Homo sapiens: one gene and its partners. The protein of the gene in region 2 interacts with the protein of the main gene of each other region in a biochemical or structural test. Each region holds a gene or a part of one and is shown on either strand. Other genes may lie near its edges.

Region 1 (4,484 bases), on a different chromosome or scaffold from region 2:
CATAGGCCCAGCACTGCTCCATGAGCCTGAACACGGCATCAGGACACAGCTCTGGGCAGGGCAGACGGCCCCCTGTGAGGAGAGGCACAGCACACCAGGCATGAGGAGGGAGTTTGAGGGTCCTCGGCAGACTCTGGGGGATACCATGAGCCATAGGAGCTGCTTAAGATGCACTGTTCTGAAGGATGCACTGTTCTCCACCAAGGGCCCAAAGGACAAAGAGGCCTGGCTTCTGATCCTAATCCTACCACGTGCTAGCTGTGTCCCCTCTGCCAGCCTGTTTTTCCATCTGAGAAAGGGACATATTAATCCCTACCACACATGTAGTGATGAGCAAATGAAATAACATGTGACCTAGCACAGACCAGGTGCTCACTCAGTAGTAGCTACAGGGATATTCTATTTTTTTTTTTCTTTTTCTGAGATGGAGTCTTGCTCTGTCACCCACGCTGGAATGCAGTGGTGTGATCTCAGCTCACTGCAACCTCCACCTCCCAGGTTCAAGCGATTCTTGTGCCTCAGCCTCCCAAGTAGCTGGGATTACAGGCTTGCACCACTACACCTCGCTAATTTTTTGTATTTTTAGTAGAGACAGGTTTTGCCATGTTGGCCAGGCTAGTGTCAAACTCCTAGACTCAAGTGATCCACCTTCCTCAGCCTCCCAAAATGTTGAAATTACAGGCGTGAGCCACTGCGCCCAGGTTTTTTTCTTTTTCGAGTCAAGGTCTCTCTCTCTCTCTGTCACCCAGGTTGGGGTGCAGTGGCATGATCTCAGCTCACTGCAACCTCCACCTCCCGGGCTCCAGTGATCCTCCCACCTCAGCCTCCCGAGTAGCAGGGACTACAGGCGCATGTCACCACACCCAGCTAATTTTTGTATTTTTTGTTTTTTGGTTTTTTTTGAGATGGAGTTTCACTCTTGTCGCCCAGGCTGGAGTGCAGTGGCACAATCTCGGCTCACTGCAGCCTCCGCCTCCTGGGTTCAAGCAATTCTCCCACCTCAGCCTCCCAAGTAGCTGGGATTACAGGCACGTGCCACCATGCCTGGCTAATTTTTGTATTTTTAGTAGAGATGGGGTTTCACCATGTTGGTCTGGCTGGTCTCAAACTCCTGACCACAGGTGATCCACCTGCCTCGGCCTCCCAAAGTGCTGGGATTACAGGTGTGAGCCACCGTGCCCAGTCTATTTTTGTATTTTTTGTACAGATGGAGTTTCACTGTGTTGTCCAAGCTGATCTTGAACTCCTGGGCTCAAGTGATCCACCCAGCTCAGCCTCCCAAAGTGCTGGGATGACAGGCGTGAGCAACTGGCCAGGTTATTCTTATTCTGCCTGGTGGGAAGGTTGGCATTAAGGGAGTTAGAAGAGTCCGGCTGGAGCATCTGGAAGAGGGTGCAGCCTGAGGCTGCTGTCATCACAGGGTGCTTACCCTTCTCCACAAACTCCCGTGTCTGCTGATTGCTGAGGTTGGGATAGGGGGAGGCCCCCAGGCTGAAGGTCTCCCAGAGCAAGATGCCAAAGCTCCACACGTCGCTTTCGGAGGAGTAGCGGCCTGCAGAGGAGGCGAGGAGGTGAGGCAGCGTGAGTGCACCCTCCCTGGGGCCAGGGCGAGGCAGCCGGCAGGACCCAGGCCTGGCCTCTGGCCATGGAGTCCAGGGTAGACAGGGACTAGGTACCGTAGTTAAGGGCCTCAGGTGCGGTCCACTTCACGGGGACTTGTCTGAGGCCCCCTGAGGCTGCATAGACCCCATCGGCTTCCTCTCGGGACATCCCAAAGTCACTGATCTTCAGGACATTCTTCTCTGTCACCAGGCAGTTCCGAGCAGCCAGGTCCCTGGGTGAGACAGGGCAGGGGCTCATTTGGCCAACAGTCGCCTGCCCAGCCCTGGCTGAACACTCTAGGAAAGCCAAGGACAAAAGCTGCTCCCGGCCCTGGGCACCCCTGTCTACCACAGAGGCCAACTCCCCCTCTGGAGCTGATGCCTGATGGTCCAGCGGGGGGCCCTAGGGGTATAGGTACCTCTTGACTCTGGTCGGGGGTGTTGGCAGGGCCCGTGGCCACCGCCCACTCACCGGTGGATGCAGCACTTGCTCTCCAGGTACTCCATGCCAGCAGCTGCATCCCCCACCATCTGCAGCAGAGTCTTCACCCGCAGGCGGGCCCCCTCCGTGCGGAGGAAGGTCAGGAAGTCGCCCCCTGCAGGTGGGGAGGACCCCTGCTGAGCCTCCTGAGGTAAGGCTGCCACCTGACCAGGCTGCGCGCCCTACCTGGAGCTCAGCGCCCCGCGCTCACCCTGCACAAGCTCCATGACGATGTAGATGGGCTGCTTCTGGGTGCAGACACCAATGAGACGCACGATGTTGGGGTGGCTGTACTGCTTCAGGATCCTGGAGGGCACTGCTGCTCAGGATCTACGTGGCCAGGCCCGCCTCCCCAGGGCCCCCCAGGGATGATGGGAGAAGAGCTTGGCCTCCAAGGCCAGCAGACCCGGACGTGTGACCTGGGGCAGCCTCTACCCTTCGGCACTATAAGGGGGTACTACCCGCAATGGGGGGCCTCGAGGACTAAACACCACCACGGTGGTCAAGCACTTCACACTGTGCCATGCAGTGTAACCTCTGTGTATGCGGGACCCGTGGTGATCATTAGTTTATCACCCACCTCGCTTCCTGTAGAAACTTGGCCTTGAGGTCAGGTGGGAGCGTCTCTCGACAAGACTTCACCGCCACCAGGGTGTTGTCGGCTCGCAGGCGTCCGCTGAACACTTCGCCAAAGTTCCCCTGAAACGGTCTTGGGCTCCTACCACGGCCTTCCCAGTCCCGCAGTTCTCTTCTCCGCTTCCTACCCATTCTGCTTCCTACCCCTGGGTGAGGGGCCCCCGTGTTCGGACCCCTCACCCAGGCTCTCTGGGAGTTTGACCCTCGCTGGGGAACCTAGAGAGCACATGGGGCAGGCAGGGAAAGTTGCCTCCGATGTGCCACCCTTCCTGAGAGAAGTGACATGGAAATCCAAAAATCACTCTCCCTTGGGTTTGAAAAGCATTCTGATTTTTAGGACAGTGACTTCTTCCCTAAACAGGTATCTTATGGCTTACAGTAACAGGGTGTCTCCCTGCGTGCACACAAGAGCTCGATGGGGGCGGCCTGGGTGGGGGTGATGAGGTCAGGGTGCTGGCAGAGCTGTCTGCTGGGAGTTTTCAGGGTAGGTACTGTCCCGTTTCCTGGAGGATGGTGTGTGGTGGGGGCTGGGCAGGGAGTCGGGGTACAAGTGGGGAATCAGATGGGGCAGGGAGGTCTCTGGGTGGTAGGGCAGGGGGCCCAGGCGCGACTCAGGAGAAGTCGCCAGCGACAAGGAGGCCAGCAGAGGCGCACTCACCCGTCCAATCTGCTCACCCAACACCAGGTCCTCATGGTTCAGCACCCACTTGTCCTGGGGAAGAGAGGAGACAGGGGATCAGAAGTCTGAAGAAAAGGGGTGCTGGGCCCTTAGAAGGGCTGTGTCCTCCATTTTTTGGCGCCTCCATATGTGACCAGGGGTGGGACCACGTGGGGAGCACACTGAGATGACTACGGGGTCCAGGCAGGTGCCCTGACCAGGTAAGCACCAACCTGGTGTGTACAGCCCATGGCATAGGAGTGGCCCTGACATTCCAAACCTAGAGCAAGGCTGGCCCTGAGGGTCACTCACTCTGCATCTTGTATGTAGACGGAGGGCCTGGAAAGCCCTTTCTGCTCAGACGCTGGGTGGGCCTGACCCACACTCCCCAAGCCCTGCCACAGGTGGCATGGGCCAGGCTGGGTGCAGGCTCACCTTGGGCACAGCCCTGTGCAGGACAACACCACTCTTCTTGGTGAGGGGCTGCTGGGTGCTCAGTAGGTGGTCGATGAGCAAAGGAATGCTAGGAAAGCCTTCCCCTTCCAGTCGGTACAGGTTCTGCAGGGCAGGGGACCCGGGGTCAGCAGCCTCCATTCTGAGGGGGCGTGAGCCCTGGGAGGGGGAAAGGGAGAGCAGCAGGGGAGAAAGGGCCTGCCCAGGACCAGGGGCAGAGAGACCTCCAGAAAAGATGCCATCTGATGGCACATGACATCCTGCTGCCCCACCAGGGGAGGACTCACACTTAAGCCTCTATTTTGTTGCAGGGACAGGGTGGTCTCTGTGGCCCCTTCCAGCCAGCCCTGCTAGGGAGGCATCCAAGACCTGGCAGCTACCCCCTACCCTGAAAGGCCATTTCCCTTGGGGAAGGGAAGGGAGGGGAAGAGTGAGGCCTGGAAGGCTCGGGTCCCAGCCCCACTCACATCCAAGGACTGGATGATGAAGTGCCGGGGCAGACCATCCCACAGCACCGACAGCACGTACTCCTGCTTGCCCTGGCTCTCCCGCACCAGGAAGTCCCCAGAGTGCACCAGCAGCTCAGCCACCTCTGCCCTCGGGATGGCCCCGTGGTACCACAGCTGCTCATGCAGGGGCTTCTGCACCTCCGGAA
Region 2 (6,044 bases):
GTAGCTTGAGTAGCTATTACATGGAAAAAGAATTGTGTTTAGTTCCGTATGGCTTGAAACAGCAGAAATAGTAACTACGTATAAAAGTTACATGGAACTCCAGATAACAAAGACCTAACATAGCTGTATGACATTACAGGCAAGCTTTAGGGTAATATACCATCTATCACCAGAGTGTTCAGAGACTGATTCATTTTCAACAAAAATGTATTGAGTACCTAAGTCCCACAAGGTACACAAAGCGCAGTTGATAATGACTAAATAACTTGTATGTTCTCTGCTTTTCACTGAGGTGAAGTGGTAGAAGCAAATAATAACACACACTCAAAGTAACAAAAAGATAAATCTCTAAGGAGAGGAATACAGTTCTTCAAGAGTATATAACAAAGGATCCTGACTTATAATGTGGGGTCAGAGTAGGCCTCCCTTGAGTAGCTAAGTGATGTCTGAGTAGGAGGTAAATGGTTGGGGGGAAGAACGTTACAAAGAAAGGAAACACCACTCGCAAAGACCTTGTGGTAAGAGAAACTACAGGTTCAAGGAATTGAAAGGCTCGTTTACCATATAACCTGAGCACACAGAGTAAGAGAATGAGTGGAAAGAAGCAGGAGCAGAACCACAAAGAGTCCTGAAGGCCTCATTAAGGATTTGGTTTTCTCCCAAAAGTAATGGGATGCTGCTGAGGAGGGGTTTAAGTAGTAATAGGCACGGGAAGGAACAATGAAGGTCAAGAATGAATTGGAGGTGGGCCACATGCTCTAAGAAGACTACTTGGGAGGCCGGGCACGAATCTCAGCACTTTGGGAGGCCAAGGCAGGTGGATGACCTGAGGTCAGGAGTTCGAGACCAGCCTGGCCAACATGGTAAAACCCCGTCTCTACTAGAAATACAAAAATTAGCCGGGTGTGGTGGTGGGCGCCTGTAATCCCAGTTACTCAGGAGGCTGAGGCAGGAAAATGGCTTGAACCCAGGAGGCGGAAGTTGCAGTGAGCAGGGATCACGCCATTGCACTCTAGCCTGGGTAACAAGAGCGAAACTCCATCTCAAACAAACGAACAAAAAAATACTTGGAAGCTTCCTGCAGTAGTCCAGACCAGAAATGATGGTAGTTTGGGAAAAGGAGGTAAAAATGAAGATGTGGAAAGGTGGACAGACTGGAGATTTTTAGGTTAAAATGACAGAACCCATGTGACCAATCCAGATAGTCCAGTGGGTGACTTGGAACTAGTCTAAAGCAACCATTCCCCCAAACCAGAGTCTTTGGCCCTAATTAAATACCTTTATGGGGGGCAGGAGCAGAACTCTGACAAATTTTACCGGGGGATAGGGCAGAGGACATGGGTACAGCAAAAGAGAGACATAAAGGGTTACCCACCCTCTCCCTCCCTCAGATTCCCAGCCTATATAACTGGGTGGATGATGGTATCATTCAGTGAGATATTCCTATCTCACTGGATAGGTACAGATGGTCCCTGACTTACAATGGTTTGACTTAACATTTTTCAACTTTACAATAGTGCAAAGGTGATAGGCATTCAGCAGAAACTGTACTTTGAAGACCTACACAACCATTCTGTTTTTCACTATCAGCACAGTAATAAATGACATGAGGTATTCAACATTTTATAATATAGGTTTATGTTAGATGATTTTGCCCAACTGTAGGCTAATGTAAGTGTTCTGTGCATGTGTAAGGAAGGCAGGCTAGGCTAAGCTATGATATTCGGTAGATCGGGTGTATTAAATGCATTTTCAACTTCTGATACTTTCAGCTTACAATGGGTTTATCGGAAGGTAGCCCCATCGTTAAGTCGAGGAGTATCTACACAAGTTAGGTGGGCTAAGATCCTGGGTTCGGAGTTGAAAAAGCTGCGTTTCGGGACCTTGATTTTAAATAAGCAGTTGGACATATTAACCTGAAACTTAAAGGGCAGGTCTGGACTGGGGGTAAAATATTGAGAATCACTGGCATATAGACAGTTGTAGCTATGGGCTTAGAAGAAATTGCCTGAGCGGGAAATTGAGAGTGAGAAGACGGCCTTTGAGGAATACCAGCAATGAATAACAAAGTAGAGGAGGGTGAGGCCGCAAAAGAGAGGTCTGAGTCAAACCAGGAGCGAGGCATTCCAGAACACATGTGAAGAGTGCTTTCCGTCAAGGAAGCCATGGTCAACAACGTCAAACGCTGCTGAGATATCAAATAAGATAAGGATTGAAAGGTATCAATTAAGTTGAGGGACAGGTTTCAGTGGGATGATGGGGCAGAAATCAGACTGCAGTAGGTTGAAGGGTGAGTAGGTGGTAAGCAAATGGAAGACAATAAATATAGACAACTCTATCAAATTTCCTGCTGTAAACTGGGACGGGAAAAGGTGACAGCTGTGGGGGTGGGGGAAGGGTTTAAGATAGAGAAGCTTGATTATGTTAAGAAGGAGCAGGTGAATATACAGATAGGGTCTGAAGTACTGGCAGAAGGACTAGCCTTAAAAGGAGAGGCCATGGGGAAAAGGAAGAGAAAGAAGCCAAACTAAATGACCTTTAAGATCCCTTCTTACTCTAGAATCTCATGACCTACAAGTCCCTTCAGATAGGGCATTTGCATATATGCATAAATCTATGCAAACTTATTCAAAAATTCTGTTATAAATAGATCAGTCAATCACATCTTTCACCCCCAATGACGCAGTTAATGTCCTCAGGTTTATGACCAGTGTAATCTCCGGGCAGGACTCATCCCTTGAGAGCTTTTAGCTCAAGGCAGACTGCAATACAGCACTCAACCAGCTCTCTCTCCTCGCCAAACCCATCCTACCCAACGATCCTAAAGGCTAAAGGAGGAAGTAAATTTAAAACCCTGAAACTACAGCATATCCTGCTGCATTCGAAGCGAGTGTCATCCATAAAAACAAAACGTGACACCCCAAATCCATCCTCACTCCAAGCTAAAGCCAATTCCTGCCTGACCCGACAGTTGACAGGTCCCCCAGATGGCCGGGCTTTAACACTAAAAGTCATTGGCACCCCCTCCTCTTTCCCAACGACCTTTAATTTGTGAAGAGCCAGACATGGGTTCCTGAAGATCCTTCCTACACCCCTTGCCCCGAATGCAGCAGAGGTGCTCCCGGCAGTTACTCCGGCGCCCCCTAATAAGCCCTCGCAAGGGGGTGCGGAAAGACCCCCAGAGCCCGTCAGAGGGGGCTTCGGCGACCGCGACCCTGCGGCTGTGTGGAGGACGAGGGAACAAGCCCCAAGGGATGGGAAGGGAGGATGACGGGAGGCGCAGCAGACGCGTGTAACGAGGGGTCATCTCCCCTCGAGGGGGGTGGAGTTGTTGAGGAGGGCTAATCCCCTGCCACCGCTCCCCTGCTACCCTCAAGTCCCGCTCTGGCCTCGCGCCCCATTGCTCGGATTCACTCCCACTCCTCTGGGGCCGCCTGGACCCCAGAGTGCCCGCGAGCCCGGCGCCCCTGCCTCAAGCCTGGGCTCCCAGACCGGCACTCACCCGGCCCGCCATCTTCGCGGACACGTCCGGCTCGGCGGCTGCAGCTCTGCGCTCGGCAAAGCCCGCCCCCGCCGCGCGCGCGCCCCCGCCGCCCGCCCTCGCGCAGGCGTGCAACCGCCGTGAGGACGCGCGCGTCCCTGGCCGCGTCCCCGGCGTCCTCGCTCCACAGGGCGCGCGCGCGGGCTCGGCGGCCGCCTGGGGTGCGCGGGGTGGGCAGAGCGGCGGCGCCATTTTGGCTGGAGCTGCGGGGCTGTGGTGGGTGACTCCGTTTCCAACGTGCGTGTCAGTCCGCCGGGGCCTGGAGGGCTGCGCCTGCGAGTCTCATCCCCCACTGGCGGTTCGCGCCGGAATTTGTCTCAAGGGCTTTAATGCTTCGGATCACTTATCCCTTTGCCAGCTGCTGTTCGCCCTCGAATGTCCATTTTGGTCTGTGCTTCCACACTCTCTTTAAACATGGTCTTGCTGATGAGAGCGCCCGGCGCGTTCCCTGGCTTCCCCCAAAAAAGATCAGCTCCGAGGAGTTGGTTCTGAGTTCAAATTCTCCATGAATTTTCTCACTTTTCTTTGTAGGCGTACTTGTTTTCCTAGTTGCTGGAATTGTCATCGTTGGCAGTTTTATTTATGTGTAGCCTGGAAAACTCAGTATTTTCAGATTTGAAAGTGAATTGTGATTATTTTTATACATTATTTTTATTAAATATTTGTCTTTATTTAATAAAGGCAACTTGCATCTTCGACCAACCTTTTCATTCCCCAGTGTTGTTTCATTTTAGACAATATATATGGTAGAATCTGAATAAAATATGCCCTAAATTGAGCCTTGTTGAACCTCAATGTTTCCACCATACCATTTCTCCACTGGAATCTCAGAATATCTAACTGCAAGCACGCTGAGAGGAGAAAGATTCTGCCGAATGGATTCCCTGATGCTTTTATTTACCCCACTATCATATCTCTCTTCATATTTGCACAAGACAATAGGGAATGATAGGATTTGTTCGCTTTCATTTCTCACAATTAGAATAAATCGGGGTTTTTTTCCCAACATGAGGAAAGAAGGGAAATAACTAGAAGAGCTGAGCATGCATAGTGATTTAAATTTGAGAACTAATAAAATCAGACAGTGACCTGAAGATGAACTAGGGACAGAAGAAAAAATTCATGCCAGCCAGGCGCGGTGGCTCATGCCTGTAATCCAAGCACTTTGGGTGGATCACCTAAGGTCAGGAGTTCCAGACCGGCCTGGCCAATATAGTGAAACCCCGTCTCTACTAAAAATACAAAAATTAGCCGGGCGTGGTGGCGGGCGCCTGTGATCTCAGCTACTCAGGAGGCTGAGGTGGGAGAATCGCTTGAACCCCGGAGGCAGAGGTTGAAGTGAGTTGAGATTGCGAGGCTGGGCAACAGAGCGAGACTCCGTCTAAAAAAAAAAAAAAAAAAAAAAAAATTCACGCCTATTTCATTAAGTCTCACACTGAACCTGAGGACCAGGGTGCTTGGTTGACCAAATCAGATGTTAGCTAAATCATGGGTGGGTCGGAGAGGTTATCAGGAAAGATAGGAAACTAGTTGAGTTCTGACATACTAACGTGCAGAAGCTACTAACTTACAAAAACAAATATTAGAATGGCTTGGGGAGTCCAAAGGGTTAGGTTCTTTTCTTTGTCCCTATCTACCCATCACCTGTGTACCTTCATCTCTCTGAGCCCAGTTTCCTTATTTGTTTTTGTTTGTTTGTTTTTGAGACGCAGTCTTACTCTGTCACCCAGGCTGGAGCACAGTGGCATGATCTCGGCTCACTGCAACCTCCGCCTCCCGGGTTCTAGCTATTCTCCTGTCTCAGCCTCCCAAGTCGCTGGTATTACAGGCGCCTGCCACCACACCCAGCTAATTTTTGTATTTTTAGTAGAGACAGGGTTTTGCCATGTTGTCCAGGCTGGTCTCGAACTCTTGACCTCAGGTGATCCACTGGCCTTGTCCTCCCAAAGTGCTGGGATTACAGAAGTGAGCCACCACGCCTGGCCTAGTTTCCTTATTTGTACAGTGAGAGGTATAATTAAATAAGCTTAACAGTTGTATCCTTTTTTTTTTTTTTGACACCTTGACTTTGAACCTAGAATCAAAGAGATTTTGTCCAAATAATTACCAGATCCAGAAGATGACATTGGTTCTCAGTCCAATAATCTGACATTATTTTCAAGGTTGGAAAATAATGCAAACATGTTTCTCCCTATCACTGGTTAGTTTGTCTTGTTTTACTAGATAAGCTAGATTGCAAGTACAAATGTCTTCAATTTCTCCAACAAGGAAGAATATTTATCATCTTGGAAGGATATGCCTGCTGGAAAGTTTCCAGTGTATCAGCTAATGTGCATATCTACCCATTATAAGAGGCCCTCTGTGCCCTCTCAAAGCCCTCTGTGCCTTCTCACAAGTAGTAAAAATTAAATAGAATCATTTGCACAGCCCTGCAGGGCCTGCCAAATAAATTGCAAGCAAAGATAGCTCTTGTCCTTAAGGTCCTTAGCATCCAGCAGGAGAG
Region 3 (4,484 bases), on a different chromosome or scaffold from region 2:
ATGACATGACAGACATCTGAGAGGAAACTTCTCATCAGTGTTTTTAAGATGTCCTAGAAAATGACCAGTACTGCACTGCTGTCAACTACAGTCATTCAGTATAAGAACTCTTGCAAAAGAATGTTTCTACAAGTTACTTGATAACTTTGCTAGCTATTCCCTAATATCAAACACAACCCTTCTTAGAAAAGGGTTGGACTCTTGATAGAAAAGCAACATTGGTTTCACTGATCACAATTGCTGAGCATCAAAAACAAAGAACCAAGACCCAGAGAGCCCTGGGACAGGGGTTGATAATCCCTCATTGTGTGGAGCCCAAAACCTGTTAGTCAAGTAGTGTGGGCACTAGAGGAGACCCATGTTCACTTCTCACCCAAACACTTGCATTTATACATATCTCTGAGATTTTGAAGACTTGCTTTCAGCTGCTTATTCTGAGTTCACATGAGGAAATGAGCGGGCTTGAGGACTGAGGACCAGACACCATGGGCTTCTATACCAAGCTGGAGTGCCTGAATGCCACTTCCCTCATCCATAAATTCGTCTTCTACAACGCAAAATTGGACTGGGGAAGCATTAAAAACAGTATTCTATTTGTGGAAAGGATTTTGCAAATACGTCAGAGGGAGGACACGAGGAGAGCTTTAATTGAGTCCTCCTCCACATTTAAGACTGGTTTAAGGATTCAAACTTACAGGACTTTCCAACCATGCAACTGGAAATTTTATGCAATCAACAATTGTACTGATATTTGGGATTTTATAGCTGTATCAACAATGCTAGAGGTTATGTGTACCACTAACAGCCTGAATTGGTGGCAACTCTCTGATGAACCAGAGGGAAAAAGAACCCTATGAAGGGAAGATATGAGGGCTTAAATTACCTTCAGTTATCTAAACACTTAACAAAAATCGAATTATACAGGCTAACTGGCACAGGTGTGTGTTTGTGTCCATGTTTTAGATTGCTTCCTAATGTTATCTTCATATCTGGTATCAAAAATCTGCATCTTCATACCCTTCAATCTACCTTCTTTGTATTTATTCCATATCAAATGCAACGGCCAGTCTTGAAACTTATTTTGGAAAGCTGAGGAGTAGAATTGAAAGCTACTGTGATCTTTCTCCCCAGCACTCCTTTTACCCTCTGCTTCTGAAATCCAAGAGGCCCAAGGAAATGAAGACTTGGAAATCTAGCAGACCTGGGTTTGAATAGTGCTCCTCATGGTTAGAACAACAGCAAAACCTTGAGGCACATCACTAGTCTCACTTCCCTCCATGTCTCCATCCTGAAGACTTGGAAATATCCTCCATCTAAAGTCATAGGAAGAGTAAATGAGCTTTAACTGTAAATCAGTGAGAAAAGCCCCAAAATTTGTTTTGTTTGTTGTTTTTCTTAACTACTGATTCAAGCTTCGACCCAGAGCAATTGTCAGAACTGCTGAAATACAACCTGGATCTCAGTAGTTTTTTAATCATCTGGGTGATTCTGAAATAATCCTTGATTTGGATATTCCAACCAACGTGAAAAAGACGTCCTTGTAGATGCTCCCTAAGTATGAGCTTCCAACTCCTTCTTTCTCACAGTTCCCATTTTTCCAAATTACAGAAAAATTCCTTCCTTGCCCTCTGTACATCATAGCTTCTCCATAAGCTGCTTACCTCAGCTTCAATTAATTCCCTCTCTGGGATTGCTTCAGTCCACAATACTTAATGCCCCTCACTCTTTTTATTGATTGATTAATTTTTACTGATTTGGAGTGCCTTTGTTTTTGTTTTTGTTTTTTTGTAGAGACAGGGTCTCACTGTGTTGCCCAGGCTGGTCTGGAACTCCTGGACTCAAGCAATCCTCCCTTCAGTTCCTCAAAGTGCTGGGATGACAGGCATGAGCAGCTGCACGCAGCCAAATTTGAAGTTTTTTTTACAGTTGTTTTGTTTTGTTTTTGTAGCACAGTACCTGGCATGTAATAAGCACTTCAAGAAATACTAGCTTCCTGCTTCCTTTTGGTTGCAGAAGTTTAACTTCTAATCACAATAGGGTATTAAAGTTAGTCACTTGAAGGCAAAATAAACAAATATAGGGACATTCCAGACCCGTAGAGAATTCCCATACTCACCTTCTTCAGGGTATAGTACTCAATTCCCTTCCGAAGTAGTAATAAAAAATAATGACTTGTTATGTGCCAGGAATGTTATAAGCCCTAGACATCTATGAATTTGTTTAATCCTCACATCATCCAAACGATGTAGCTTTTACAGATTAGGAAACTGAGGCACACAGTTAAGCAATTTGCCAGTGATGACAACTACACAGGAGTCACGCCAGAATAGAAATATAGCTGCTGGCTCCCAGACCTGTGCTTTCATCACTCTATTATACAGAATCGATTCTCATTATTCATGGTACTCATGTTCTATAAAGTCACCTCAAACACTGAATTAGCAAATACTGAACCATTGCATTGAGGGGAAAATAGGGTAGGTTCCTGGGAGCCTTTGGTCACAGCATTTTTGCCAACTCATTAATACATAACCTTGTTTTATATGTTTTTCTGTTCAAAAACACTGTATTTAATATATCCTGTTGATTCACCATCATTGAACTCATGGCCAACAGCATTGTAACTCATGCCTGAATAAAGCTTATCAAACACGTATTTTCTCTTAAGACACGTCAGAGCCTTGTCTTAGAATCCCTAGACAGTACTTCAGGACCATGCTTAGGGGCCATTTTAAACAGCAAAATCATCAACAGGGATTATGAAAATGCAAAAATCATAACACGAAGTAGATAGCAAGAGGGACACTTGTTTATAGTCTGAGGGCTGCAAGGAGAAGTGAGCCTTGCTCAGCCTCAGCTGGGAACATATACGTCATATAACTCAAATTTTTTTGCCATTCCACACGTCTGCAAAGGACTGAGAAAGCACCGTGAGTGTTGACTCGAAGGTTACAAATAAACGTCAGTAAGTCAGCGAATTTGCAAATACAGAATCCATGAATAATGAGGGCCGACTGTACTTGGAATGCTGTGTGGAGTCCTTTTTCTACTTTTGTTCCTGAGAAAGAGAGATTCACAAACTTCCCACATTCTTCCAGTGGCATCTAAGGATCCCTTCCTAAATGGCCTTTCTCCCAGCCAATAGACTGAAGCAAACCATGTCCCTGATGCTTCCTGCCCACCACCATCCATTCTTTCAACCAACAGCTTCTCCGGGCTTTCACGTGCCATGCACTTTGCTAAGAGCTTGAGGGAAATACAGCAATGAAGAAGAGATGATTTCTGTTTGGACCAGTGCTCAGGGATTCCTCCTATTAGAAATCAAAGAGGCTTCCAAAAGCCCTACAATTTTTTCCCTGTAACTAAAGAAAATAGCTTCTCAATGTAACTAAATTTTATCTCATACGCAAATTGGAATGTATACCCTTTCACTCTGAATTGCTTGAAATATTCCAGGAGAAATAAATACAACTCTGTGTAAGGTCTTCTAAAAAAGCAGAAGTCAAAGTCACCAGAAAGAACCTTTAAAATCAACTATGTTTCTGACAATGTTGCTTTCGAAACTGTTACCCCACTCCCGCAAAATCACCATTGAAAAATACCTTTGTGGTGTAATTAAGATTAATCATGAATGCACTGAATGTTCAGAAATGAGTGTTTTTGTTTTTGTTGATTAAGTGGGAAGTTACAGTTAGCAAAAATGCCTTGTACACGTTCACATGGATCTAAAACTCCTGAAACCAAGTTTACTGGGAGACAACAGTCAAGACTACACTGTTAGTTTACACATGCAGGAGATTCTGGTATTAGAATCTCACCTATTCATGCTATAAGACTTCCCAGCTGCTAGGTGCAATGCTGTTGCATGAACTGCTGGGAAAACAAAACCACACTTTATATAGTCTAAGCCCTCAATGAATGACTCAATTTGGAATAAGGTAGCCAAATGAATGAATGAACAAACTTTCAAAGAAATTCTACTAATTGAAAATTTCTTCTTTATTTTGTTGAAGTTTCTATCCTCAGAGACAAGAAAAACATCACTTTTTGAAACTTTTAATCTAGTTAATACCACTCTGAGTTATTACGGTATATTCTTATACTGGCTGAGGTAGGAACTCTGTTTAGCCCTGTTCCAAATTTCATTAAAATAACAGATGAGACAGGTCAATAAAGAAATAAACCAGAAAAGGTGAAAGAAAAATATCTGAGAATACACAGATGGAACAACTAAAACAGAAAAGAAAAAAGAAAGCTTAATAGGGTAAAAGAGGCCAAAAACTCTTTAAAGGGAGTTTAAACTTCTATGTATTAGAAAATAAAGCAAATGAAACAAGAAAATATGAGAATGGACTCAAAATTCTAAAAGACCTACAGAAGAAAGAGGAAGTACGCCAATGTGAAGATGACTATTTCTAACATCATTTAATTGCAGGAAACTAAAAGAGAACATTGTCTTTTGCTTTCAGGGCCATAAAAGAAAT
Region 4 (4,484 bases), on a different chromosome or scaffold from region 2:
CTGCATTTTCCTAAACTCTGCCATGCTTTTCACAACACTGGGCCTTTGCTCGTGCAGTTTTCTCTGCCTTTGTGTGTATATATTTAAACCTAACTCGTACCTATGCTTCAGGACTCAGCTCAGGAATCATCTTAAAATAAATAATTTCCCAAACCACTAAATAGTTAAGTGTCTCTCCTCTAGCAGCCCACATTTTCATCCGTAAAACAAAACACCATATTCTAATGACCATCATCTGTGTCCATGTTCCCAATATGCCACTGCCAGGGACTCAACTGAGTATTATCCACTTCTGTACCTATAATATCTAGTAAAATTCCTGGCACATATTAGATGCTTAATGGATGTTTGATTAACTAAATGGAATTGGGCAGTGAGTCTTTATTCTGGAATACAAAAGACAGTATTGAAGAAGAAAGGGAGCTTCTCAATCTTTCCATTTTGGCATTGGGGAAAGATTGGCCAGCCAAAAAATGTTTATAGGATGCTCTTTCAAGGAAACTAAAAGACAAGGAGTGGTTAATTATAATTAATGCCAGGATCCAAAAGCAGGAATACTAGAGTTTATCAAAATACAATATTGATTCAGAAAGTAAGTATAGGGAGGTGGGAATCAGGCTTCAGATAGGACCGAAGATACAAAGGGCACTGAAAATTCTTTTGAATTCTCTGACATCTGGTTTGTACATGCCAATCACAAATTCCTATGCGTGGAACCAAGAGAGAATCACAAGACACATATCAGCACAGCAGGCTCATAATTGGTCTCTGATACGGGTTAAAGGTAGAGAGAACCAGGGTCAGAAATTCCTCTGCACTTAATTTGGTCAATGGCGGGTAATAATGAAGGAACAGTATTGAGAGCATGGTAGAGTCATATGACGCCTTTCCTCACCCGTTATATAAATCACTGATATTAAAAACTTAGTAGGCAGAAAGAGGAAAATAAAACAAAGTCTCAGTTATCTGAAAACAGTAAAATGAAATAGCACAAAAAAGGGAAACATTCATCATTTAAATCTCATATAGATTACTATTAATATAATTCTGATCTTGCACCACTACTTGTAGATAAATTGCATTCCTATTCTTTTAATTTGCTAGTAAATATACCAAAAATCACATTTAAAAATAGGTTTATTTAGTTTAAATTTTCATTAAGATAGAAATAGTTTTGTTAGAAAAATGAACTGTGCAGCATTCCTATTTATAAAGAGTGAAAAACCAAATAGATAAAGAGTATTTGATAAGAAAATACATTTATTTGCATATAAATAGAATTGCAGTGTATTTGTTTTCATCAAATGTTCTTCATTTCATTCTCTAATTTCCCCTATATTCATTTTCTTACAGAAATTACCATTCATACTCATAATTTGCAATACCGCTCTCAAGCTTGAAGTCCTATTTCCATTTCTGATTCTCTGTTTCTGAAATATTTTTCCAAGCATATATCACTTTTCTCCCTTTCATCTCAATTTCCTGAAAAAAAGGAAAGAAAAAAACCTTTTATCAGGAAATCCCCGCAACCTTGTTTCAAACATCTTCTGTTTGTTTGGTGGTTTTAAAATATTCAGAAGAAAAAGGAGCTGGCCTTTAAGTAACTAGAATGTCTAAGGAAAGAAGAAATCTTTCATTCGGGAATTAGATGCTGAAAGACTTGCGAACGCTTTTCTGGCACAAGGCTAAGATATGATCTTACTCATAGAAATAAATTCAAAGGTACAATGTGCAGAGGAAAAAAAATCTAAGGATTGGTGTTCTGAAGACCTAGAACAAGCTTGGAAAAGGGAAACATTAGGAGTAATTGGTGATAGCAGATTACATGAGAGGTATTTAATTAAGGAGGTTATTCACATATACTTTTTTTTTTTTTTTGAGACAAGTTTCACTCTTGTCGCCCAGGCTGGAGTGCAATGGTGTGATCTTTGCTCACTGCAACCTCCGCCTTCTGGGTTCAAGCGATTCTCCTGCCTCAGCCTCCCGAGTAACTGGGATTACAGGTGCCTGCCACCACACCTGGCTGTTTTTTGTATTTTTAGTAGAGACGGGGTTTCACCATGTTTGCCAGGCTGGTATCGAATTCCTGACCTCAGGTGATCCACCTGCTTCAGGCTCCCAAAGTGCTGGGATTACAGGCGTGAGCCACCTCTTATTGGCTGATAGAAACCCTATGGGACCTGCTGGAGTCAACAGCACCAGGAGAGAAGGAACCCATTCACACTCATCCCAATCCATTCACACTCTTGCTCACTTTACTTGAGCCACATTAACCTTGTTTGGGTTCCTCAAATCAATGACACCAGCGCACAAAAAAAACTTACATATTTATTTGAGCAAAAAGAGCTGATATAATGGGTATTTAAGATGACTATAGAAGAGTTCTGTAAGAAATTGGGTTATACGACCTTGGATTAAACACTACCATAGGGATAACCAAGACCAGGGTGTAGAAAATACTTCATCTCTTAAGGGTGATGTCTGACAAAACATTAGGAGGATTTCTACTAGGAACACAGAAATCTTGGTCAGTTCTGGTTGGTTGTGGTCATAGCGGAGTGGTGATGTGGAAGAGGAGGCAAAAATATTACCTGTATATCTGGGTACTAGCTGAAATTGTAGGTCACCCATACAGGTTAAAAAAATCAATTTCCCCTAGTATGTCATTTGCTACTTTTTAATTAATAACATTAAACAGAGGTGAGGTAACATTAATGAATAAATGAGCAACTGAGAATATTACATTTCTGGGAAAAATAACTGATATTTTAATTTATGGTTTTAATAAGATTCTAATATAAGTGATTGGTAAAATTTTTACTATTTGAATGTAATGAGTGCATTGTAGTTATGATTATTTAACTCCCATAATGATAATTTTCCTATATTTTCCTTAAAGATGTGTTCACAAGTCAATATTACAATATTTCATAATTCTCAGTCAGAGCTTTTATATAATGCAGAAAATTTAAATCTGTTTATTAACCTTCTATTAAATTCCTAACACCACATACTAGCACCATGAAAGATAGAAATATTACAGTAGACATTCCTTTATTTCAAAAATATTTACAACATATTTGGAGTAATTAAATGAAAACATTAAGTGCTTTACAGTAAAGCTCATCACTGCACTGGGATATGTTTCTGAAAATGCAACATCACTGAAACTGTGTACGGAGAGGCATTAAATTAGGGGAAAATGAAAACTTGTGGTCATTGTTGTTAAGCCTTCTATTGTGCCACACTGCTACCAATTACAATGTTTTACTTAAGTGCATCAACTGTATCTGACATCAAACATTCTTTTACAACCCCTCAAGTTAGAATTATATTTATAAGGTTCAGGAGTAAATCTGCTTATACGTTTAAATACCTTTAAGTTGGATATTTAGATAGTAGAAATAGTGTTACATTTTAAAATAAAGTACAACTCATATTGTTTTTAATCAGTTATCCACATAAATGTGCATTTTCTTTTGGGCCAAAATGAGGCAGAGGTGTAATGTGAATTTTTCATTCCTTCACACAACGATAGTCTCTCACAAAACAAAGAACAAAAGGAAACATATGTTCACAGTGGGAAGGATTATTACTCGATCATCTGTAGAAGCATGGCCCAGGGAGCCTTTGCCAACCTACTGGGGATGTCACATGTAAAAAGGTTTCTCCAAAAGGTTGGCAATATGATTTATTAAAGGAGTCAGATGACATGGGAGTTAAGGGCAGCAAACTTCATTGTGATGGAAAGGATCTAAGCTGCTCCAGCAAAATGAAAGGATTATGGTTCACCTGCCAACACTGTGCAATTTATGGATGAAACCTCAACCACGAAAAGTGAAACTTCTTTGTGTGTGTGTATGGGGTTGCGAGGGGAGACATAGGAAAGGAAAGGCAGACAGACCGTGGAAAACAGATATTTCCCCTGGATAAGAGTAGAATGGCCAGTATCATAACACTCATGTATTATAGAATTAAATATAAACCTGTTTCAGAAAGTACAATATTAAGACCCTTTTTAAATTTGATATTCTTTGATGATATCTCTGGTAAAAGCAGAAATAGAAAGAAATAGAGAGAAGGGGTTAAAAAAGAAGGACACACGCCAAGCACTTGAGTTTAGGAATATATTCCAGCTGACTACTAAAAAGCAACATTTCAGGGAAGGCCAACTTCAAATTCCTATGATGTCATATTCCACGATTTGCACCTTAGTAGACAAAGTACTTATACTGAGTAAACTGATACAGGAAGACATTTTCTAGGAGGGCTTTAGTAAAGATAGGACAAGTGTAGGAAGTTACATTTCTTTCACTGGGAATTATGGGAAGACACACAACAGCGAGGCTCGCCAGATAAATACCTCACTTGCATTCATCCATAGAAGACTTTGAAATTAGTAGCCTTCAATATAATAACAGAGTTCCATTTTTTCTTCTATTTTATATACACCATCAATATTGATATAAAAATAAAAATTTTCA

What was found.
Region 1: of the proteins of NSF (region 2) and FES, one has a biochemical effect on the other in vitro, tested with the Homo sapiens proteins (one study listed by IntAct).
Region 3: the proteins of NSF (region 2) and ESR1 form a complex in vitro, tested with the Homo sapiens proteins (one large-scale study listed by BioGRID).
Region 4: of the proteins of NSF (region 2) and PTPRO, one has a biochemical effect on the other in vitro, tested with the Homo sapiens proteins (one large-scale study listed by IntAct).

What each region holds. Positions count from the first base shown.
Region 1 is NC_000015.10:90,891,004-90,895,487, reverse strand, and holds part of FES (tyrosine-protein kinase Fes/Fps), read right to left. Parts: coding exon 4,297-4,484; intron 3,935-4,296; coding exon 3,812-3,934; intron 3,431-3,811; coding exon 3,377-3,430; intron 2,782-3,376; coding exon 2,663-2,781; intron 2,389-2,662; coding exon 2,294-2,388; intron 2,198-2,293; coding exon 2,074-2,197; intron 1,835-2,073; coding exon 1,677-1,834; intron 1,553-1,676; coding exon 1,430-1,552; intron 73-1,429; coding exon 1-72. UniProt on the Homo sapiens protein: Tyrosine-protein kinase that acts downstream of cell surface receptors and plays a role in the regulation of the actin cytoskeleton, microtubule assembly, cell attachment and cell spreading.
Region 2 is NC_000017.11:46,588,246-46,594,289, reverse strand, and holds the start of NSF (vesicle-fusing ATPase), read right to left. Parts: upstream 3,622-6,044; 5' UTR 3,515-3,621; coding exon 3,503-3,514; intron 1-3,502.
Region 3 is NC_000006.12:151,814,182-151,818,665, reverse strand, and holds part of ESR1 (estrogen receptor), read right to left. Parts: intron 1-4,484.
Region 4 is NC_000012.12:15,325,508-15,329,991, reverse strand, and holds part of PTPRO (receptor-type tyrosine-protein phosphatase O isoform a precursor), read right to left. Parts: intron 1-4,484.